Regions from separate parts of the Homo sapiens genome. Here all the other regions are linked to region 3. Evidence: fine-mapped QTL for protein levels in blood plasma. A gene starts in region 3. Each other region holds a variant in brackets. All regions are shown on one strand. Distances are between the middles of the regions.

Region 1 (8,277 bases), 57 kb after region 3:
ATACACACACGTATAATACATTTTGTATTAAGACATATTACCAAAGGAAATGTATGTCTAGCAAATGTTAATTTAAGTGCTAGAGAAAATAATCAAAAGAAAATGTAGCTTGTTGCAATATATTATTATTTTTTTTAAGGAGACAGGGTGTCACTCTTCTCTCCAGGCTAGAGTACAGTGGTGTGATGATGGCTCACTGTAGCCTCAATATCCTGGGCTCAAATGATCCTCCCGGCTCAGCCTCCTGAGCAGCTGGAACTACAGGCATGTGGCACTGCAGCCAGCTAATTAAACATTTTTTGTTGAGACAGAGTTTCACCAGGCTGGTCTCAAACTCCTGGCCTCAAGGAATCCTCCCACCTGGTTTCTCAAAGTGCTGCGATTACAGGTTTGAGCCACCATGCCCAGCCTATAATTTCTAATCTAACATTTTGTAAGAAGCATGGAAAACAAGAATAGGAATTTTTGCCTTGAAGCTTTGACATTGGACTATGGATCTGTGACTATAATATAATGTCTGTGGCAGGGGCAACTTCAAAACTTTTAACAAGTCATTTTAGAGTACTCCCTTCCCCCAGTATTTAATTTTCATAATACTTTTGATCTAGTTGACAATGTTGACTATTAAATCTTTTTTTTTTTATTTGTAATCTTTCCTTCCTAGTGATCTCGGAAGCTGAAAAGGCAAAACAGAAGATAGCTCCAGTTTTCTTCAGAGAAGAATATATGCTGAATAATGCTGTTGGTATGTGTATTCTGCTCAGAGCTTTGGAAATGGAATAAAGAAATGAGGTGGACAGTATGTACTTTGTTAAAAATGCAATCAATAGGCATCCTTACTTAAACTTTTAATACCATGTGCCAGGCATAAGTAAAGTTGATTAAACTATTTTAAGTGCTTATTTCAGAACAGTTACCCTTTAATATTAGTAGGCTATACTTAACTGCTATTTGTTATAAAATCAATATGAGGCCAGGCATGGTGGCTCACGCCTGTAATCCCAGCAATTTGGGAGGCTGAGGTGGGTGGATCACCTGAGTTCAGGAGTTTGAGACCAGCCTGGCCAACGTGCTGAAACCCCGTCTCTACTAAAAATACAAAAATCAGCTGGGTGCGGTGGCAAGTGCCTGTAATCCCAGCTACTCGGGAGGCTGAGGCAGGAGAATCAGCTTGAACCTGGGAGGTGGAGGTTGCAGTGATTCGAGATTGCACCACTGCACTCCAGCCTGGGCAACAAAGCGAGACTCCGTCTCAAAAATAAATCAATATGAAAATATGGATTTCTCATCATGTGGTAGCTTTCTTGGGGGAAAAAACTTGGGTTCCAGTTTTCTCTATGAAATGAAGTATAGTATCATTTCCTAATTCTTAGGAATAAAAATTTCTTTATATTCAAGGTTCTAGGTTTCATTGGAGGTGAAGCAGTACTTTTATCTAGCATGCGAAGTTAAGATACAGGAAATAACATAATAAGTACTTGTGTACCCTCCAGCCCAGAATTAACAGACGTCAATATTTTGTTTTTGCTTGATGATTTAAAATTTCTCCAAAAGAAATATAATACTGCAAGTTTGGAAGTTACATTTCAGCCCATTTTTTTGCTTTCCTCAGTGCCATTACTTTCCCCAGAAGCAACCATTTATCCCTCCTCAAAAACAACCATTGTCATTAATTTTTAGTGTATTCTCCTAGACCATATTTGACATTTTTACTAAATATTTATGAACTAAAAGATTTTAAGTTAGAATTTGATTGAATACATGATATTAACGTATTTTGACATATAGTTGGAAAAATAAATTCAGTTTTTGTCATGTGCCTTTTAGACAAATAAACATTTATATATTGGCATAAAAACATGAATTAATATCTAGTAGATTAAACACATGGGGATATATATGTTTTTCTAAAAATATGAATTGATGAAAATAATTACTAAGTGATGAAAAAAGCTGTATACTCATTTAACATTAAAGTATTTAAAATAGTAAAACATAAGTTTATTTTTATTTTATTATTTATTATTTATTTATCTTTTAAGAGAGAGTCTTGCCCTGTCACCCAGGCTGGAGTGCAGTGGTGCGATCTTGGCTCACTGCAGCCTCTGTCTCCCAGGTTCAAGTGATTCTCCTGCCTCAGCCACCTGAGTAGCTGGGATTACAGGCATGCACCACCACACCCTGCTAATTTTTGTATTTTAAGTAGAGACAGGTTTCACCCTGTTGGCCAGGCTGCTCTCGAACTCCTGACCCTAGGTGATCCATCTGCCCCGGCCTCCCAAAGTACTGGGATTACAGACATGAGCCACGCACCTGGTGTGGTGTAAGTTTAAAGACAAAATAGAAATGCAGAGCATTGTATCATATTTTATACAGCAAAGTAGACAAATAGAGGCCGCTGCTTTTTAAGCTTTCCAATTCCTTTTGTTTTTTAGCTTTTATTTTAAGTTTGAACTAAAAGATTTTTACTTTGTGTTTAGCAATTTACATAAATACTATCTTACTGTGTAACCATTCCATAAATTGTTTTTAACAACATGGAATGTAACTCTTCTGTGGTATCCAATATTATGATTATATCCCACATTAATTATCTGTTCTACATTAATGGATATTTTAGCTTCCAGTAGTTACTAACATAGATAGTTGTACTCTATCTAGTATGTGGTCCCTTATTTCCCATGTGCAAAAGTTTCTCCAGAAATAATATGTAGAATGGATAGATCATAGTGTTTATGCATCATTACTTTGTTTCCAAATTCTTTAAGATGCTTTTTCTACATGTCTTTTTTCTTGGCTGCTGTTGGACTTTGGATCTTCCATATGAATTTTAGAATTGTTTTATCTAGTTTCACAAAAGTTTCTACTGAGATTATGATTAGACTTAGAATGAATTATGGGTTAATTTGGAGGGAATTGACATCTTTGATATTGAATGTTCCCAACCATAATGTGACATAGCTCTTCCTTTTTTTAAAAAAAAAAAAAAAAAAGATAGGGTCTTGGTCTGTTGCCCAGGCTGGAGTGCAGTGGCATGATCACAGCTCACTGCAGCCTCAACCTCCTGTGCTTAAGTGATCAAGTGTTCCTCCCACCTCAGCTTTCTGAGCAGCTGGGAGCACAGGTGCCTGCCACCACACCTGGCTATACTTTTTTTAAGAGAGGGAGTTTTGCTGTATTGCTCAGGCTGGTCTCATACTGCTGACCTCAAGCAATCCTCCCACCTTGGCCTCCCAAAGAGGTTAGATTACAGGTGTCAGCCACCACACTGGGCCCTGGCTTTTGTTTAAAATCGAAGGTTAAGTTGTTAAATGATAATGAATAGATAGGATTGTGTTGGATTGACATTTAAAAATATGTATTTTATAAGCCATACATTTAGTCGTCTTTGGTGTTTCTTGCTAAAATTTCCTAGGGAAAATCTTGAGTATATATAATGTGGGTTTTTTTTTAAGAAAAAGGGAATGTATTTTAAACACTGTAACTAAAATTACAGCTCTGTTTCTTTCAGGTTCTTGCCAGAAACCTTATGTTGCACTTATTCATGGAATTACAATGGGTGGGGTAAGTAGACTTTTTACTCTGATCATTGTATGAGTGAGTTGTATTAAAAATAAGTTAATAATTATTAAACAGAAGTGAGCTGATGAATGTAATATAATAGAACTCATTGAAACATAATTGTGTGGATTTTGGATCCTGACAGATTTGAGATATAATATTTGCTTATAGCACTTTTAGACTATCCCAGCCCAAAAGAATATTTTATGTTCTTAGTTATGTTATATGGCCGGGCATGGTGCCTCACGTCTGTAATCCCAGCAGTTTGGGAGGCCAAGGTGGGCAGATCACTTGAGGTCAGGAGTTTGAGACCAGCCTGGCCTACATGGCGAAACCCTGCCTCTATTAAAAATACAAAAATTAGCTGAGCATGGTGGCACACACCTGTGATCTCAGCTACTCAGGAGGTTGAGGCATGATAATCGCTTGAACCCAGGAGGTGGAGCTTGTAGTGAGCTGAGATTGCACCACTGCACTCCAGCCTGGGTGACAAAGTGAGACTGTCTCAAAAACAAAAAAATATATGTATACACACACACACACACACACACACACACACACGTTATATGCTATTTTAACTTTTTGAATTAGCAAGTTTTTTTAAGCAATGGAAACTGATTGTGTTTTTATCTTTTAATATATAGAGCCTTTTTTCTACTTAAAAATAAACTGATTCTTTTCAGAAACTTCAGAAGAGAAACTAGAATGTTGAGTTTTTTTTTTTTTAAATTCAGTATTAGAGATTTGGTTGCCTAAATTGTACCTGTTACTCAAAATTTCACCTTAGTGGAAGTGTT[T/C]GGATTCTTTTTGAAGTTCTCTGTAACTGCATTTCTGTCAGTTGACAAATATTCTGCCTCTGTGCTATTACAGAGAAGTCTAAAATGTAACTGGCATTGATTAACTTGACCTGGAGTTAGAGAAAACATGAAATAATTACAAAACAATTGGTAAATTGTATGGTACTGACAAAGATTAGCCTTTGAAGAAGTGAGGGGTCAGAATTGGTCTTCATGGCAGGAAAGGGCTGCATGGAGAAGATGGTGAATTGAACTGAGCCTAGAAAGGTAGTGGAGGAGAGAAAAAGTAATGTCTTTTCCTCACCGATTGCAGGGGTCATGGCCAGTATCCATATAACAAAAGACAGATTGACAATAGAGAAGCATAACAAATTTGTTTAATCAAAGTTTTACATGACATGGGAGCCTTCAGAAAAGAAGACCCAAAGACCCACAGATCCAGGAAAAACTGTTTTTGTGTGTAAGTTCAGTGAACAATGGACAGTCATATAGAAGTATGATTGGACAAAAACGGTATTATTCAGTAGTAATAAATGGGGGAACTTAGGTAGGCTTGTTTGTTGAGATTCTTCTTGGCCTCTGTGTGTAACATTCCTTTCCTCCAGGTATAGGATGGGGCCCTTGTCACATGAGGGTTTAATGACTTTCAAGTCCGGGTGTCGTGGCTGATGCCTGTAATCCTAGCACTTTGGGAGGCTGAGGTGGGTAAATCGCTTGAGGCTAGGAGTTCGAGACCAGCTTGGGCAACATGGCGAAACCCCATCTCTACTAAAACTACAAAAATCAGTTGGGTGTGATGGTGTGCACCAGTAATCTCAGTGACTGGGGAGGCTGAGGCACGAGAATTGCTTGAACCCGGGAGGTTATAGTGAGCTGAGATCATGCCACTGCACTCCAGCCTGGGTGACAGAGTGAGACTCTGTCTCAAAAAACAAAACAAAACAAAAAGACATACTTTCAGAAGAGGTAGGTTAGAGAACTTCTTTACGGCCAGCTGTCCCACAGAAAGGCGGGGGGAGGTCACAGTGGCCTCCAAGTGGCCGTAGTTTGGGGTAGCATATCCTGAGCCGTGACAATAGGTAGGACATAGGTAGGTAGGGCCCAGGTAGGTAGAGCCTAGGTAGGTAGGTAGTATGAGGCCAAAAGGTGGAATTTTTGAAATTCCACCTGTTCAATGTTTTAAGGAACTTAACTATTTGGAATACAGGAAGTTCCCCCTTTGTTCTAGTAGAACCACCCTAAATAAGGACCGGGAATTGCTTAGATCTTGCACATCATTTTGGGAAGGGATTCTACTAGCAAGGGTGATCTGTACCTCTGCTTGGCAGAAACTGAGCGTGGGTTGGTTGTGCTTTAACCTGGGGAAAAGGAAAGCTCTCTGAAAAAAGTACTGCAGAGTAAGAGGAAGGGAAAGAATCTGAAGCATTGAAGGAAGAGCTGCCCTGTGAATGTGAAAGAAACCAGGAAAAAATGAAGACAAAAACAATGGGCATACCCAACAGCATGTAAAAATAAATGTGACCCCATTAAAACAGGAAAGAAATCCCATAAGGATAGAGCAAACTCAGATGAAAGGGCTACAAGTTGAAAAAGGGAAACAGGAAACAGGGAGGATGACTGGGAACTAATACACAGTAGCAAAGCTGACATTTTATTTTAATGGCAGTAGATTAGAAAGAGATGAATTTAATATTACAGATAGTGAAGTATCTGTGGAGAACAAACTTGAGAAACTCTCACAAAGCATTCAAAAAAATATATAAGTGATGAAAATGAATGTTTTGAGGTAATGACTATGAAAGAAAGTTACTGGGAACCCAACAAAGGAGTGATAAGTACTCCACTGAAAGTAAATCAGATACTTGGAACAGAAATGATGATCAGATATAATGAAATAAGACTTTAAGTAAAAACAAATACTCCCAAACTCAGATATGTATAATTAAAGGAAACACGAAATTTCAGATAAGTGAAAAGAGACCCATACCTAGATAAAAGCTCAGGTAAATTTTTTAAAATTATAAGCCTTAAGAAAAAAAAGCTAACTGTGAGTAGTCAGGCCAAGGAATCAAGGTAAATGGGGTGATTAGTGATATACGTTATATACAGATTTCTTCAGATTTCTCTGTTACACAATGTGACAGAAGTCAATGGGTTGAGAAGTTGTGAAGTAGTTAGGATCCAAGAGTTTTCTCCCCAACTAAGTCGTTATTTAGTATAAATATAAAATAAAAATATTATCAGAAATGGTAAATATATTGCTGACATATTACTGAGAATATTTCAGTAACTATTTGGTCTAGTTGACCAAGAGATCACTTAAAGTTATAACTCAAGACTCCTTCTGATATGAAAGGATTGGTAAGCTGCCCTTTGGTGCTATAAGTGGGCAGAACTTCCATTTTTTTTTTACAGAAGCCTGAGAATTATATTGCTCTAGCACATCATTTCTGAAGGCACTGGCCATGTTCTTCAGTTCTGGGGCTTGTATAGGTTGGTATAATGTTTGTATATATTCCTCATATGTAACAACCAAGAATATTTATTTCAAAAGAAAAGACTGCAGTGAAACAGATCAAGATAATGTTGTCTTGAATAAATGAAGTAAAGATGCTGCTGATTCTTCATACTGGTCTCTGTTTTCAGTATTTAAAGAACATAAATAACTTTCAAATAAAGATATACTTTATATCAGCCTTTCTTAACCAGAACTCCACCAGAGGATTAAGTCTTAGTGCCCTAAAATGTTCTTGGGTTTGCCTAGAGAATCAGTCTCGAGGCTGGGGCCTAGCAGTCTGTTTGAACAAGCCAAGCTCTCCAAGTAATTCTGAGTCATGTTAATTTGAGAACTAGGGCTCTAAGCCATCCCTTGAATGTAATAAATTAGCTCCTATTTCTGTCCTGTGCTTCTCGAATGGTACTAGTTATGTACCATCCTTGGGAGAATTGAGAATATAATCACATCATTTGCAGTGATCTGTGGTTCAGATGAGGAACCCCTGAGAAAGTTTGTTTTATACTATATTTTATCAGCTCCCTTAAAAATATTGTGTCTTTTCTTCCATCAGGTATGCCCAACCACATGCATCCTTAAAGACTGAAGTTCTTCCCTCTTTTTTAATAGCCATAAATATTATGGATTGAGCATCTCTTGTCTGAAATGCTTAGGACGAGGAGTGTTTTGGATTTTGGAATATTTACAATATGTTATAAATAAAGTTTCAGTGCCGCAAAAGAAATAGCACTCGAATGTAACATTTTGTTTTTAATTCTCAGCAAGGAAATGTACTACTATAGAAGGGTGTGCCCTTACAGATGGAGCAATGGTGAGCATACACCTGGACAAGGGAGGCAAAGGAGTTCTTATTCCTGATGCACATGGCCCGTGCTGCTGTGTCATTCCCCTATTGGCTAGGGTTAGACCGCACAGGCTAAACTAATTCTGATTGGCTACTTTAAAGAGAGTGATGGGGTGAGTGGTTTGGCAGAAAAAATGGTTATGGCAGAGCAGTAAATTGGAATGAGTCAGGGTGGAGCAGGTAATCGAAAAAGGTTGCTTTATGAGGAAGTTAAGTTTAAAAGTAGAAGGCAAAGAATTGAACATACTGACATTGACTCTTTGAAGAGAAATTTAGAACTCATATCTAACAAATCTTAAATCTAAAAATCTGAAATCGGAAATGTTCCAAAATCTGAAATATTTGGAGCACCAACATGATACTCAAAGGAAATGCTCATTGGAGCATTTCAGATTTCAGAGTTTTGGATTCAGGATGCTCAACTTACACTACAATTAGATGTGATTTCTTCTTTCATTGAGTCAGTGCTTTCAGTCTGTACTCTAAATTTGGTGTTTGTACTTTATTGTTACTTTATATCTCATCTTTCCAACTGTATTAGATGGTCTGGAAAGGGCAAG
Region 2 (8,000 bases), 22 kb before region 3:
AGGCCATGATTATGTCTGCATATTGTTCCAATTCTTTTTAATTTCTTATTAACCTTTTAAAGATAGCAGAAACCTATTTTTAGTTTGGAAGATGGTGGGGGTAGGGGGAAAATATTAAAACTTAAGAGGTATAAACTTATGACTATTAAAGAGCAAATGATTGTTACTTGAAGCAGCTCAGGTTCAATAAAAATATGTAATCCTATATAAGTGAAAAAATATGACCTATTTCAATAAAAAGCTGAACTGCTTGTTCCACCTGGACTTTGCCATGCCCTGGAGTCAACCCCAAAGCACAGGCCATGGATCAGAGGCAGCTGAGTCCTGGCCACTTTCTACGCTCTGTTTAAGAGTGCATGGAAGAGTGGAAGGGAGGAGGCAGAAAGGGAGTGTGAGTTAGGTTCTGATCCTGGCCATGCCTACCAATCTTTTCATTGGATAATTTTCACATTTTGTTTTGAACTTCTAAAATTATACCAAAGTTCAACTGGCTATACAGCGATGGCAGCTGTCTTATTCCCAATGTATTGGAAGGCAGTGTTACCACCACTCTACTTATCTGGTTTTGAGTGGATTCTAGAAACAGGGAACAGGATTACTATATTCCAAATGTAAAACTATGATTTCTACAGGATAGTATTAATTTTAAAATTTCTACCAGCATGCACTTGGCCTGAAATAAAATTACGCAAATCCAAGATTGAAAATAGAACTTTAATTCAAATACGCAGACTTTCAATGGCAACACTCCCATGTGTTAAGTCATGGGAATGTCATATAGTGATAATCCTAACAACAAGCAAAGCTGAGGTCGTAAGTTCTAACAACCATAATATACCAAAAATATTTGCCTTTTACCTGAGGGTGTTTGGATCTCGTGACACAAAAGGTTGATTGATGACTCCCATCAGGGGAACCCCTGTCTGTATGTCATAGACACCAATTAAAATGGTGACACACTGAAGTCCACAGGGGAAGATTCCCTGGTTGGATTTAATGTCAGCAGAACCTTTTATATACTGATAAGTTGAATCTGAAAAAGGAAACAAATGTGTTTGGATTCAGGTAAAGATCATTTAGAAGACTCTGTTCCATATGACTTCTCTCTTCTACTGATTTGGTAACCAATAATTTTTTACCTTTGGATGTCACTGTATTGAATTGTTATTTGGCCTCTTGTACTTTACTTTTAAATTGCTTGTGTTTCATTTTCCTGACTGTGAGAACTCTTGAAGGGAGAGGATGTGTCTATAGTTCCTGTGGCATAGCAATTTGTATATAACAGGCATTCAAATATTTGTTACTTATCAAAAGCATTGAAAAAGTAATAACCAGAATAATTGGTGGGATTATTTTAGAAATACTACTAATCAGAGGACTAGTACAATGTGAGATGGAAAAGCCTCCTTCCAATGGGTGAAAAAAAAAGACCTACTATTTGATAGCACAATAGGGTAACTATAATCAATAAGAACTTAACTGTACATTTTAAAATAAAGAGTGTAACTAGATTGTTTATTACTCAAAGGATAAATGCTCAAAGGGATGGATACCCCATTCTCTATGATGTGCTTATCTCACATTGTGTGCCTGTGTCAAAACATCTCATCTACCCCATAAATATATACACCTATTATGTACCCACAAACATTTTAAAAAGGAAAAGAAAAAAAGAAAAGCCCCCCTCCTGTAATAGGTCACAGGTAATATTATCTTTTACTATTATTATTTGGTCCCTCAAGTTAGAAGGAAGAAAGAGACAATGATGGTGGCACCAAAAAAAGAAATTAACGGAGCTCCTATGAAACAGAGGCAGAGAAACTAGGTTTCCCCTTAAGAGATGTACATGCCAGCAGCTGACTGCTGACGTCTAGGGAGTCAACACACGGCTAAGGATGTGCCTGGCAAAAGACTCAAAGAGCTCAAAAACAGAATCAATTCAGGGTGGAACCAAGAAACAGGAGATCTCTGTCCCTCAGAAACTATAACTGATGCCAATTTACCCTTAAATGATCAAAGATTTGGGGAAAGGTTTTTAGTTTCCATATATCATCCACTGGCTGAATGTGATATAATTATCTGAAGATTAAACCCATTTCAGTATCATCCTGTGAATGCACTTGTAGGATGGGAAGGGCCCAGAGAGGAGTTTGCCTGGTCCTTGAATGGTCCCATTGTGTTGGGTGGGGAAGAAAAAAAAGGAAGGGGGAGCTTATTAAAATTATTACCTAGAACTTGTATTAATAGCATCATTGAAGATAAAGGCTGGCTGGGCATGGTAGGTCATGCCTGTAATCATCCTAGCACTTTAGGAGGCCAAGGCAGGCAGATCGCTTGAACCCAGGAGTTCGAGACCAGCCTGGGAAACATGGTAAAAACCCCTTCTCTAAAAACAATATAAAAAATTAGCCTAGTGAGGTGGCATGCAACTCTGCCACCTACTTGGGTCCCAGCTACTTGGGAAGCTGAGATAGGAGGATTGCTTGAGCTCAGGAGGACAAGGCTGCAGTGAGTGAGTTCTGACTGTGCCACTGCACTCCAGCCTGTGTGCAACACGAGACTCTGTCTCAAAAAAAAGGGTTACATTTTCAAAACAATGGATTATACATTATGGTTCTATCACAATCATGACCAAAAAAAATGTAGAGCTCATGCAGGGCTCACAAACTGCTCATGCGTCACATTCAGCTTTTTGCTTGACCTGTACTGTGTTTTTTTGATTGTTTCCTTCTTTAACTGAATTAGTAGCTAACGGTTAGAAATTGGGATATATCGCTGAAAACCTTGGATTTTGGTTTCTCTTTAAAAATCTGAAGAGCTGGCCTGTACTCCCATATGGTAACAATCTGCTAAAGCTAAGTGCTCTTTAAATGGTATGTGTGCTCAATTGGTCATAACTGCTCTCACTTCATTCTCTCATTTACTTACCAGTCTGGTCCCTGAAGTCTTTTGAAGAGAAGTTAATTCATCTTTGCATGTGTGCCTGTATGTATGTGTGTGTATATACACACACCTGTTATAGATATGTATATATATACACACGGCTATAATATATATGTATATATACAGAACACATGACACATACACCTCAACTCTCATTGTTTTAAAACTTTAAAATTTTAAAAACTTCTAGCAGAGTTAAACTACACTCAATAATTTTTATTTTTCCAACACCCATCCCCAACCCCACCACCAAAAAAAAGATTGCAAATAAGAACAAACATACTTTCCTATACTTACCTATGGGGTCCACCCAAATTCCCAAAATGTCCTGTGGAACATTGATCTCTGTGGAATCCAGAGTTGGGTCAGTAAAGGCAACATCCTGATGAACAACCCTGGCTAATGCTTCAGATGCCACCTTGTTACCATTGAGGACTTTGCTAAGAAGCTCTGCTGTTTCCTCCTCTGTTGAACACAACCTCAAGGTAATCTTTTCCCC[TA/A]GGGTAAAGCCACACGATAAGCCATTACATTTCAAGAGTTTCAGTGGAGAAAGAACAGAGAGAGAGAGCTAAAGAGTGAGAGAGACAGAGAGAGCGAGAGAGAGAGACAGAGAGAGAGCGAGAGACACAGAGAGCGAGACAGAGCGAAAGAGCGAGAGAGACAGAGCAAGAGAGTGAGAGAGAGACACACAGAGAGAGCGAGAGACACAGCAAAAGAGCGAGAGACAGAGAGAGCAAGACAGAGAGAGTGAGACAGAGTGAGACAGAGTGAGACAGAGTGAGAGCAAGAGAGACAGACAGGGAGAGTGAAAGAGACAGAGCAAAAGAGTGAGACAGAGCAAGCAAGAGAGAGACAGAGCGAGAGAGTGAGACAGAGAGAGTGAGACAGAGCGAGAGAGACAGAGAGCGAGAGAGAGACAGGAAGAGTGAAAGAGACAGAGGGAAAGAGTGAGACAGAGAGCAAGCAAGAGAGAGACAGAGCGAGAGAGCGAGACAGAGCAAGAGACAGAGAGCAAGAGACAAAGAGCGAGAGAGACAGCGAAAGAGCGAGAGAGAGCAAGAGAGACAGAGCGAGACAGAGAGCGAGAGATTCAGGGAGAGACTGAGAGAGACAGAGTGAAAGAGACAGAGAGACAGAGAGAGCAAAAGAGTGAGACAGAGAGCGAGCGAGAGAGAGCGAGACAGAGCGAGAGAGCGAGAGAGAGCGAGACAGAGCGAGAGAGCGAGAGAGAGCAAAAGAGTGAGACAGACAGTGAGCGAGAGACAGTGAGACAGAGCAAGAGAGCGAGACAGAGCAAGAGACACAGAGAGAGACAGAGCAAGAGAGACAGAGAGCGAGAGAGACAGCGAGAGAATGAGACAAAGATTGAGACAGAGAGAGCGAGAGAGCAAGCAAGAGAGACAGAGAGAGAGTGAGCCAGTGAGAGAGTGAATCAAAAGCTGTGCACTTAGATTGAGGGCAATATATCCATCCCAGCAGTTCCTATGCCTGGCTGACTGCCAGAATCACCTGGTGGGGCTTCATCAAGTCAGATGCTCAGTGGCTACCCAGGCACTTAACCTGAATAGTAAGAGATGGGTTTCAGGAATCAAAAGACCTCCCTAGAAAAATGCCCATGTGGGCACAATTTTGTATCCCAGTTAAGGGATACATAGGCCAGTTAACAATTCCTGAATTCCTGATCATTAATCTTTTTAAAATTTGTCTTTTGACTTTTTATATACTTAAGTCACCCTGTCCGTGTCTGAATATGTTATTGAAAAGAATGGAGGTTTTTCAACACACCGAAGTGCTTCTACCTCCTTATATGATATTGCTTTTAACTTAAAATTGTTTATGCTAAGTAACATAAAATGGTATATACCAATCTTTAAATGTAGTAAAACTTTATGCCTCTAAATGGTATACATATAAATAGCTCTCCTCTGTGGAGCCCATTGAGAACCAGAACATAAGCAAAGCTGCTTCTTCAAATGAAACGATAAGTTACCGAGGCCAGGTGCTTTACCATCGCTTTAAACATGCTTCTTAGACCCTTGATTAATCTGGTTTCAGCCCTTGACAGAAGTGAGGGAAGAGGCTGGTAAAAAATAGGCAAGTTAATAGCAACAAGAAGTGACAGCAGTGGAGGAAAAAAAATCTTAAAAACTAAGAAAACATGGCACTTTGGAACGTTTTAGATACTCCTAGCTATCTAGTAGCTATCTAGGTAGCTACTTCTACCCTTCTTATTCCAAGGACCAGCAGTGTCTATATCAGCTGGGAGCTTATTAGAAAGTCAGAACCTTAGGCTGAGCGTGGTGGCTCATGCCTGTAATCCCAGTACTTTAGGAGGCTGAGGTAAGCAGATCACTTGAGGTCAGGAATTCAAGACCACCCTGGTCAACATAGTGAAACCCCTGTCTCTAATAAAAGTATAAAAAAATTAGCTAGGCGTGGTGGCAGGTAGCTTAGCATGTCTGTAATCCCAGCTACTTGGGAGGCTGAGGCAGGAGAATCGCTTGAATTTGGGAGGCGGAGGCTGCAGTGAGCCAAGATTGTGCCACTGCACTCCAGCCTGGGCAACAGAGGGAGACTCCATCTAACAAAAAAAAAAAAAAAATCAGAACCTCAGATGCCACCCCAGACCTACTGAAATTTTTTTTTTTTTTGAGACGGAGTCTTGCTCTGTCACCCAAGCTGGAGTGCAGTGGTGCGATCTCCGCTCACTGCAAGCTCCGCCTCCCGGGTTCACGCCATTCTCCTGCCTCAGCCTCCTGAGTATCTGGGACTACAGGCGCCCGCCACCACGCCCGGCTAATTTTTTTGTATTTTTTAAGTAGAGACGGGGTTTCACCGTGTTAGCCAGGATGGACTCAATTTCCTGACCTTGTGATCCACCCGCCCTGGCCTCCCAAAGTGCTGGGATTACAGGCGTGAGCCACCGCGCCCGGCCGACCTACTGAATTTTAACCAAGATCCTGAGGCGATTACATGACCAGTAAAGTGTGGGAAGCACAATATACATCTATTACAGTGATGACTGAATCAGCAAGAAACAGTCAAATTTAGTTAAATTAACTTAATTCAAAGTAAATTAGACTGTTAAAGTTGGGGAATAATAAAGCTAATAATGGCTACTTACTGCACACCTACTCTGGGCTCAGTAAAACTTATGGGATCATTCAAAGGAAGAAATTATATCACTCCTTTGCTTGAAATTTGCCAGAGACCTCCCATCCCACTGAGAGGGAAATCTAAATCCCTTCCTATGATCTGGTCTTGCCTGCAATATCATCATCACCATCTCTCCTCTTCCTCTCTCCACATTTCTCTGCCCTTTTAACAAACAGGAAAATGGATGTGGCTATGCCTTTTGCCTCTATAATTCTAGACAAATGATGTATTAAAATAGCTGTTTGTGAAGTAGTCAAGCGTAGATTTTTAAATGTAAGATTGCTTATAAGTCAGGCATAAGTGTTATTTTTAACCTTCAGAGGTTTAAAAGATTTCTTTCCCGTATTACTAACATAGAACTAACTGCATCTTAATATGTGGTGCATGAAGGAGACTAAAAAATTTTCAGAGTTAATCTAGAAACTCATTTTTTCTTTGTAATTGTGTTTCTAGATATATAAGTATTTGTCACATGATCAGTATTTAATGTTCACTATTTTATTCTTCTACTATTAAATCCAAACAAACTAAAAAAAAAAATTGTTTCTCTGAAAGAAATCAGATTACCTGAGGTCAGGAGTTTGAGACCAGCCTGGCCAACATGGTGAAATCCCATCTCTAACTAAAAATACAAAAATTAGCCAGGTGTGGTGGCACATGCTTGTAATCCCAGCCACTCAGGAGGATGAGGCAGGAGAATGGCTTGAATCCAGGAGGTGGAGGTTGCAGTGAACCGAGATTGTGCCACTGCACTCCAGCCTGGGCAACAGAGCAACTCTGTCTCAAAAACAAACAAACAAACCAAAAAACTTAGTACTAAAAGGAATCTTTTAGTTAATCCAAGTACTTCACAGAGGTTCTGAGACTTAGAGAAATGATGAGTTAATTTGCTCAAGATCACACAGTATTTCAGAACCATGGCCACCTCTGTACTTTTAGCCAAGGTCCATGGACTTCCCCCAAGAGCGCACAGATGGGTTTAAACCTAGGATCTGAAATTGTCTGCATAATTTTGTAGATGGGCATCTTTGGGGCATTAATAACTTACATTAGATTCCCAAAGGGCCATGCAATTTTCCCAAAGCTTGAGTTATAAGTTACTTAAATGCCACAGATTTATATCTAAAATGATACATGGACTTGCTAAATTATTCTAAGATACCACATCTCTCTACTTAAGTTAAATGGCATGATATTCTGAGGTAGAAATTGAATGAACCTTAACATTCAAATATATTATGTTGTTTACAGTAAGTGGCTTCCAAACATTTAGTTCATGGTATAAACTAGAGACTAGAATACCATATGATAATTAAATTACAAAGACACATTAAGATTCTTATACTTACCCCAGTCATTAGTAAACTCATTGGATTCTTCTCCAAAAATATTTTTTTCCAAGCCTGGAAACTGAATGATTCAGAGTATGACGAAAAACAAAACAAAAACCCACACATATGCTCAATTCTGAACAGATTTCAATTTTATATTTCAAATTAAATAGCACAATCAGAACTGAAATTCCAAAATTTCCAATTCTAGAAACCAATCCAAGTATAAAAAAACGAAGTCAACTTGGCTCAGTGCTTAATTTTCTAATATTTTTCTGTTCTTTTGCCCCTCTAGAAAGTCAAAATCATGGTAGATGCCTGGTTCCCTTATGTCCTGTTTAGTTTGCAAAAGTACTTCTAGAAACTTCATCCTTCTACTTAAGGGCCATAGAATTCGAATATTTGCAAAGGACATGTTTTAACTATTGCTCTTAAACAACATCCCAGTAGCTTATACAAGGCAATTTCGTTGATCAAGTATCTAAAAGCACGACTTGAGACTGGATAGAAGGAATTAGAGGATAGATAACATTCGATTTTGTTTTTATTTTCAGGCGTTTGTTTCCCCAC
Region 3 (8,277 bases):
TTCTCCTGCCTTAGCCCCCCTAGTAGCTGGGATTACAGGCACGCGCTACCACACCTAGCTAATTTTTGTATTTTTAGTAGAGACCAGGTTTCGCCATGTTGGCCAGGCTGGTCTCGAACTCCTGACCTCAGGTAATCCACCCGCCTTGGCCTCCCAAAGTGCTGGGATTACAGGCGTGAGCCACCATGCCCAGCCTCCATCCTCATTTTAAGAGTTGCTGATAATGAAAAATTATGGCATCAATTTAAGTTATGCTTTCCTTAAGCAATGTTAAAAGAACAATTTTCTTTGGTCACTTGAATTTAACTCCTTTGATATGAATTATTACTCTCATTTGCATTGAGCAAAGCCTACCACTGTCACTTTAGAGGAAAAGGGCAAGTTTAAATATCTATTGGTAAAGTTGGCAAATATTTAAATTAATTTAAACATGGATAATTTACTATATTTTAAATATTTAGTTGGTTAAAAATAAAAACAAATGAGCAAATAACACACACTCTCCATCCCCCCCCAAAAAAGGAGAAAGAAAAGCAATGTAAAGAGGAAGAAGGAAAAGGAAAATAAATTCTGACATTTTCCATTATGGTAACTCATCTTGTCAAATTATTTTATAGGTATTTAATATTCTATTTCTTTAATTTTTTTATATATAACTGACCAAGTTTTAGGGCCAAATAAATTTTTTTTTCTTTTTTGAATGGGGTTGAGAGTCATTTTTTAAAAAGCTACAAATAAGGAGCCAGGTGTGGTGGCTCACGCCTGTAATCCCAGCACTTTGGGAGGCCAAGGCGGGTGGATCACGAGGTCAGGAGATCGAGACCATCCTGGCTAACACTGTGAAACCCCATCTCTACTAAAAATACAAAAAATTAGCCTGGTGTGGTAGCGGGCACCTGTAATCCCAGCTACTCGGGAGGCTGAGGCAGGAGAATCGCTTGAACCTGGGAGGCAGAGGTTGCTGTGAGCCGAGATCACACCACTGCACTCTAGCCTGGGCAACAGAGTGAGGCTCTGTCTCAAAAAAAAAAAAAAAAAAAAAAGCTACTAATAAGGTATTCAAATTTGCATGCCTGTCTTGCCTATAATTATTTAATCAGGCACATGGAAGAGGTAACAAATAAATCTATAATATGAAAGAAATTAGGCTGGGTGCAGCAGCTCACACCTGTAGTCCCAGCATTTTGGGAGGCTGAGGCAGGAGGATGTCATGAGCCCAGGAGTTTGAGACCAACCTGGGCAACATAGTGGGACCCCATCTCTACAATTTTAAAAATTAGCTGGGATGGTGGCACGTGCCTGTAGTCCCAGACACTCGGGAGGCTGGGGTGGGAGGATTCCTTGAGCCTGAGAGGTGGAGACTGCATAAGCCATGATCACACCACTGTACTCCAGCCTGGATGACAGAGTGTGACCTTTTCTCAAGAAAAAAAGAAAAAAAAGAAAGAGAAATTATTAGGTACAATATTTTGCTGTGGATTACTAGTTACAGTAATCTGCATTAGTCATCCATTAATAAAATGCTCTTATCACATTCAAGAAATTGAATTAACATTACATACCACATAAAAAAGACTAAACATGCAAAAATATGTTTGCTAAATTTGATCAGCAGAAGCTTGACCAGAAAAAAATATAAAAGTTTCAGATTTCCTAAATGAGTGGCCTCATCATATTAATAAAATCAGTTTCCATATATGAACATTTTATGTACAGGAGTCCTAATAAGTTTTATCAACTATTCATTCCAACAATAGTCATTTCCCACCTGCATTTCCCAAACTCACCTTTTTTGTTGTTGTTGACTATTTTAAAATTTTATCATTTTTGTCTATTTGAAATATCTCCTTTCTCTTAGAAATTCTGATCCAGGAAGTCTCAAGTTGCAATCTGGGAATCTTTTAAACCACTATTATACTCTACCCACTCCCCGACTTGCCTACTACCCTGAGGAATTTTACAATCAGACAAGTTTGAGAAACAGTACCCAACATCAATCACAGGAGACGGGAAGCAGAACTTTTATTTTTTTAATTTTAACTTAATTTTTATTTTTTGAGATGAAGTCTTGCTTTGTCGCCCAGGCTGGAGTGCAGTGGCGCGATCTGGGCTCACTGCAACCTCTGATTCCTAGGTTCCAGGGATCCTCCAGCCTCAGCCTCCTGAATAGCTGGGACTACAGGTGCTTGCTACCACGCCTGGCTAATTTTTGTATTTTTACTAGAGACGGGGTTTCACCATGTTGGCCAGGCTGGTCTCGAACTCCTAACCTCAAGTGATCCACCTGCCTTGGCCTCCCAAAGTGCAGGGATAACAGGCGTGAGCCACCACGCCAGCCAGAGCCTTTATTTCTAAGCTCTCAGCCAAACACATTAACATAGTTTTATTAACTTCATTACAAGATTCAAAGTATTTTAACAAGAACATTCATAAGGACTCACATCGGGAAAAAGTGCTTATATACACCATCCTCACCTTTAAAAAATGAAGATGACGTTTGTTTTCATTGATCACTTTATATAACATAATTATCTTTTAAGCAATTTCTGTATAACATGAAATAGAATGAGACATTTTCTAACTGTTATTAGAGACAGAATTAAAAAGCAAAATAAATATATAATAACCTTTATAACTTTTGTCTCACAGGCCTTCTATGTCAAACAAGAAATTATCTTTTCATTTTTTTCAGGACTATAACAAGGAAAGCTATAATTTAAATCTATAATAAGGTATATCATTTTAAAGGGCATTAGTCAAAGCTGCAATTTCCAAGCAAGCGGTGGTTTAGTCCAAAAGCTTGAAAAGTGGTAGCTTATTCTACACAAAAAGTACAGTGTAACTCTATGTATTTGACATAATTCTCTTCATGACTAAGCTGACTTCAAAAGTAGTATAAAAATCCATAAAAACTTAAAAATAAAGTAGGCTCTACATAAGAATGGAAACAAATATCTGTATTGAAAAAATGAATTCTTCCATTGCCTTTATTTTTTCCCTTATGTTCTCTATTTTAAAAGGTAAGAATGAGATCACTTAGCTAATTCACCAATCAAGAGTAGTTCAGTGGATTACTTTCATCCTTATACTATTATCAAGTTGAGCAGGGCTGATCCTTATCAACTTTTCTGGCTTCAAAGCTAGGAATCAGTGTAAAAGGGCTAAAAAATCTTTTACTCAACAGATGGGATCCACTTAAGTGGTCTGTCCATACTTTTAACCCACTGTTCTTTTGAAGTGAACACCATCATACAGTGGGCAAACTTCTGCTTATTCAACACTTTAAAAATACCTTTAAAATGAGAAATCTCCAAAAAACAAGCCGTGGTTTCTTATAAGTGTTTTTCACAGATGTACTAAAGTAAGCGTTTCCTTTCACACTCTTTGCGCCTAACCGTCTACATGATAGGGCCAAACCCAGGTTAAATATTTTTTTCCAGCTACCACTCTGGACACACCAACTAATTATGCACACCTCACAAAACCACCTTTCAAAATGCAGAGAGAATTAACAGCAAGGAAGTAAAGATTTTTCTAAATATAGTCCCATCATATTTATTTCACACTCATCAAGTAGGTCACTGGAGGTAGCTGGCAGCTAGGGACACTCAGATGCATCTCTCAAAGCCAAGGCTGAGACCAAGGGGTCACTGACAGCTGCGCCATCTACCTGTTGCAGCTGGGCCACTGCTCTGGACAACTGTCAGATCAGCTTCTTCGTCCTACAAATACTAATGACTGGATTTTTAAAATCGTTGTTTGCCACCCTTTCTTCCCGCCCCCCAACCCCATCGGGCCGCTCGGGCAGGGCCAAGGGCGCCGCGGGACTCACGAGCTCCCCTCCGCGCTGGCTGCAGCGGCGATGCCGGGCATGCCTGGCCGGGCCCGGCCGGGGGCGGCCTCGCTGCCGGGGCAGGGACCTCGCAGGCCGGCGCGCAGAGGCGAGGAACCCTCCCGGCGCCATCGACTCACCTACCCGCGGAGAGGCGACGGCGCGCGCCGCTCACCAGCCCGGGCCCCAGATCCAAGGAGGAGGGGCAGCGGCGCGGGGACCCTGTGGTGGGTGTCGTAAGGAGGAAAACGTGTTACCTAAGCCGGGGATGAGGACAGAGCAGGAGGCAGCAGCCTTTCCCTCGAGAAACGGAAGCGGCGGGGAGCAGGAGGAGGAGGAGGCGCGGCCCGGGCGCGAGGTTAGGCGAGGGGCGCTGGGCGTGCGGCCGCAGGCGCGGCCAGAGGACGAGGGTTGGGGAGGACGGCGGAGGTCACGCGAGCGAAGGCGAAGCCCCGGCGACGCACGGCCCCGCTTGGCTCGGCACCGGATCCGAGCTTGGCCTCAGCCAGGCCGCCGCCCCCGGCTTTCCCGCGGGACCGCGGCGTGGAAACGCGCGCTGCCGCCTCGGGGCTCCCGGGACGCGCGGGCCCCCCACGCCTGCCCGAGCCGGGCGTCCGCGACGTCACAAGTGGAGCGCGATGATTCAGAGGGAGGGCCAGGAAGGGAAGGGCTCTGGGGTCAGCTTGGCCACGGCTGCTGTTTCCTTGTCGCCGCCCACGAATTCACTTTTAAATCTTCCTCCTCCATTCATCTGTACTCTCATAGGGGACTGCGGGTTTGACAGATGGGTTGGCAGCTGTGAAGATGGACTTCCTGCCAGTGGTATCCGGGTCCCACTGTTCTAATGGAAATGTCAGGTGTACTGGATGTTCCTCAAGACACAGCAGTGTCTCTGGGCCTTGCCTCTTAAGGAGTGGGCCTCGGGCCACCTGGACAGGAAGCGCATCAAGGGTGGGGAACTTATCTCTCTCCAGCCTTTGGTGCTGTGATACTCAGTGTACCTTAAGGATGGTTTGGGTTGAACCTAGGTAGGAATGGGTGTTGGTGGGCGGGGTGGGGGTGGGGGGAATAGAAACCTTAAAAGGGCAACACAAAGTTTTGAATAGAAGAGGCCAAGCAGCCTCGCCCAGAAGCTGATGTTTGTGAATGTACTGGGCCTTCTAAAGCGGCGCTTCACACACCTTTTCACTTCTTGGCACAGGTAGGAAAGGATGATATTACAAGGGTCAAAATGGGGGTAAACAGAAGAGGCTGCTCCTGCAGAAGGCTTCCTGCAGAAGCCCTTGCACTTGGAGGGCTGGGAAGACCCATGCTGTATCTGCATCCCTGTCATTCGTTTCACGGCATCCAGTTGGGAAGCTCTGCTTAAAGCTTTGTCTGGCACGTTTTCTTAGCTACATTTTTCCACTCCAGCTGAGACTGCCTCACTGAGTTGTCAACACTTGGTCTTCTTCAGCAGTGAGGAACCAACAAGACAGGAGGCTGGGTCAATACTCAACTTGGCAAACTCCAGGAAATGGTGCTTAAAACGTTTGGCTTCTTGAATGGAATTCATGGTACTGCTCCCAGCCTGCACCTGGGTTCTCCAACTTGAGACAATTTCTCCCCGCATCCCCCCACCCTTCCCTGGCTTTCACTCACTAGCAAGTGGGCTGCTTCTACTTTCTTTCTCACATTCATTTCTTAGGTCCATTCTCAGAGCGGTTAGGATTACTGTTTAATTAGCCTCATAATCATATCTATGATGGCAAAATCAAGAAACAATTTAAACATGATTCTTAAAAGTAAGGAGATAAATACCAGAGACATAGAAGGTGAAAGAATTTGCCTCTAGGAAGCAGGAATTTAAATTTGGGGAAGACAGGGTGGAGCAAGGGATATAAATCTAGTCCATTTTTCTTTTCTTTTCTTTTCTTTTTTTTTTATTTTTAAGATAGAGTCTCACTCTGTCGCCCAGGCTGGAGTGCAGTGGCATGATCTTGGCTCACTGCAACCTCTGCCTCCTTCGTTCAAGCGATTCTCCCACCTCAGCCTCCCTAGTAACTGGGATTACAAGTGACTGCCACTATGCCCAGCTAATTTTGTATTTTTAGTAGAGACGAGGTTTCACCATGTTGGCCAGGCTGGTCTCGAACTCCTGACCTCAGGGGATCCGCCCAGCTCAGCCTCCCAAAGTGCTAGGATTCCAGGCGTGAGCCACTGCACCTGGCGGAATCTAGTCCATTTTCCACTTTGCTACCACACATCTGCAGGGTTTCTTGCTTGCTTAAAAGCTTTCATTGGCTCCCAATCTCTGATAATATCAAGAGCAAGTTCCTGAACAACTCATTCAAGACCCATCACCCCTCGCATCTGTCAACTCTGCCCCTTGAATATTACACCTCATTTTACTACACCACATCTAGTTCCCTGAATATGCAAACAGATTTCATACATTTGCACCTTTATACATGTTATTGCTTTTGCCTGGGAGAGTATTCTCTTGCTGCTATAATAATAGCTAATGACACTGTGCTAAGTACTTTCTGTGATTTATAACTGTTAATTCTTACATCAACCCTATGGTAAATGTTACTGTTATCTCCATTTTATAAACAAGAAAACTAAGACTTAAAGAGTTTAAGTGATTTGCAGAAATATGTAGTATTTGGTGAGGCTAAATTTGAACCCAGCAATCTGACTCCAGGACTAACATAATATTACCTATTCATCCTTCTAAAATGTTTCCCAGACACTAAATTTGAACAGGATTAAAAGATTTAAATGTTTTTAAGTCTTAAAAGGGCAAGGAGAAAATACAAGTGAATTGCTTTTAATCTCAAACTAAGCATGAAACAACGGCTGAAATTACAAAGGAAAAGTGACAGATCTGACTGTTGAACTTTTAACTTCTTTTATCCAAAAAAAAACCCCATAGAATAAAATTTAAAAACAAGTAAAAATTACAAAAAATTTGCAATATACATGACAGATAAGCATAACATTAAAGAGAACTTAGAAAGAAAAAATAGCCTACTAAAAATGAGCAAAATGCAAATTCGTCATCATGAGAGAAAAATGTAAATGGCCAAACATTTTTAAGAGAAGTAAAAACTTAAAACGATAATGCACCATCAAATTGAGAATAAAATAATACTCAGAGCTAGTAATTTGGGCCAGTGACCCTTGGAGTAGGATGTATAGCAACTAAAGAAACTCATACATTACTGAGAAGGGTGTAAATTGGCTCAACGATTCTGGAGAGCAATTTGACAGAATGTAGTGAAAGCGTCAAAAATGTTCACACACTTTGACTTAAAAATTACATTCCTGGAAATTTATAATACAAACATTTTCTATAAAAGGTCAGATGGCAAATACTTTGGGCTTTGAAGGCCACATATGTCTCTGTGGCTTTTCTTTTGTGTGTGTGTTTAAAAAAAAAAAAAACTGCCCCCCCTCCCCCCACCCTTGTTAGGCCATTCTTGCATTACTATAAAGAAATACCTGAGGCTGGTTAATTTATATGAAAAGAGGTTTAACTGGCTCATGGTTCTGCAGGCTGTACAGGAAGCATAATGCCATCTGCTTCTGGGGGGGCCTCAGGAAGCTTCCAATCATGCTGGAAGGTGATGGGGAGCAGATGTCTCACATGGTGAGAACGGGAGCAAGAAGGAGTTGGGGGGGAGGAGCCACATAAACAATGAGATCCCTGTGAGCTCAGAGTGAGAGCACACTTATCACCAAGGAGATGGCCCAAGCTATTCATGAGGGATCCGCCCCTATGATCCAAACACCTCCCACCAGGCTCCACCTCCAACACTGGAGATTATATCTCAACATGAAATTTGAATGGGACATCCAAACTGTATCACCCCCAAAATGTAAAGTCTCATCACAGTACATTTGGTAATGGCCAAAAGAGAAACCAAACTAAATGTCCGAGAATAAAAATTAGTTACAACTAGATACACGGAGGCAAGTTTTTAAAAAGTGTTAAAATTTTAAAATGTTGCAGAATGGTATCTATTGGATAAAATAGTATTTATGATTTATTAAGTGGAAAATACAGTTTACAAAATAATATGGTGTGATCCCGAAAACAACATAATCATGTGTGTATAAATGCATAGAAAAAAATCTGGAAAGATATAAACAGATATTTATAGTGGTCTAGGGCAGGGGATGGAATTGTAGATATTTGCTTTTTGTTTTATGTATATGTTTCCCATAATGAAATGTATTGTTTATATAATTAAAAAATATACGAAACTTTGCTTGGGGGACAACAAAGCACCTCATTTGTTAATTTGGGAAAATCTTTTATTACAATCTCTGTAAGGAGTTGGTTGCTCTCTCTTCTGTACTCCCTGATTACATAATGCTCTTCTGAGCACTTTTATTTAATAGCAGAATGGTTGATATCATTATTTAGTTAAGGTTTCCTCTATTATCGAACATCTGAG

Alleles and levels. Alleles are on the strand shown, and positions count from the first base shown. The strength of an association depends on the size of the effect and on how common the allele is.
In carriers of allele C in region 1, the plasma level of the protein whose gene starts at base 4,462 in region 3 tends to be lower than with T alone (moderate association).
For the plasma level of the protein whose gene starts at base 4,462 in region 3, allele TA in region 2 goes with a higher level than allele A (moderate association).

What was found. PIP is the posterior inclusion probability: the model's chance that the variant is causal. The UK Biobank Pharma Proteomics Project read protein levels with antibody pairs (Olink). The fine-mapping took linkage between variants from a reference panel, not from the people measured, so its PIPs are less certain.
Region 1: its variant is fine-mapped to the plasma level of the INPP1 protein (UK Biobank, PIP above 0.99).
Region 2: its variant is fine-mapped to the plasma level of the INPP1 protein (UK Biobank, PIP above 0.99).

What each region holds. Positions count from the first base shown.
Region 1 is chr2:190,282,873-190,291,149 of GRCh38, reverse strand. HIBCH (3-hydroxyisobutyryl-CoA hydrolase) reads left to right here. Exons shown (of 14, transcript NM_014362.4): 5 at 665-745; 6 at 3,512-3,564. Among named protein-coding and RNA genes, the nearest start is that of HIBCH, 33 kb to the left of the region's middle. The variant T/C (reference allele first, on the strand shown) is at 4,359.
Region 2 is chr2:190,362,136-190,370,135 of GRCh38, reverse strand. It overlaps INPP1 (inositol polyphosphate-1-phosphatase), which reads right to left. Exons shown (of 7, transcript NM_001128928.2): 4 at 7,449-7,509; 5 at 3,241-3,441; 6 at 859-1,033. Among named protein-coding and RNA genes, the nearest start is that of INPP1, 23 kb to the right of the region's middle. The variant TA/A (reference allele first, on the strand shown) is at 3,443.
Region 3 is chr2:190,339,774-190,348,050 of GRCh38, reverse strand. It overlaps INPP1 (inositol polyphosphate-1-phosphatase), which reads right to left and starts at 4,462. Exons shown (of 7, transcript NM_001128928.2): 1 at 4,090-4,462. LOC124906109 (serine/arginine repetitive matrix protein 1) reads left to right here and starts at 3,002. Exons shown (of 1, transcript XM_047446773.1): 1 at 3,002-8,277. The coding sequence starts at 3,735. The coding sequence ends at 4,613. RefSeq lists silencers at 3,767-4,096, 4,167-4,476.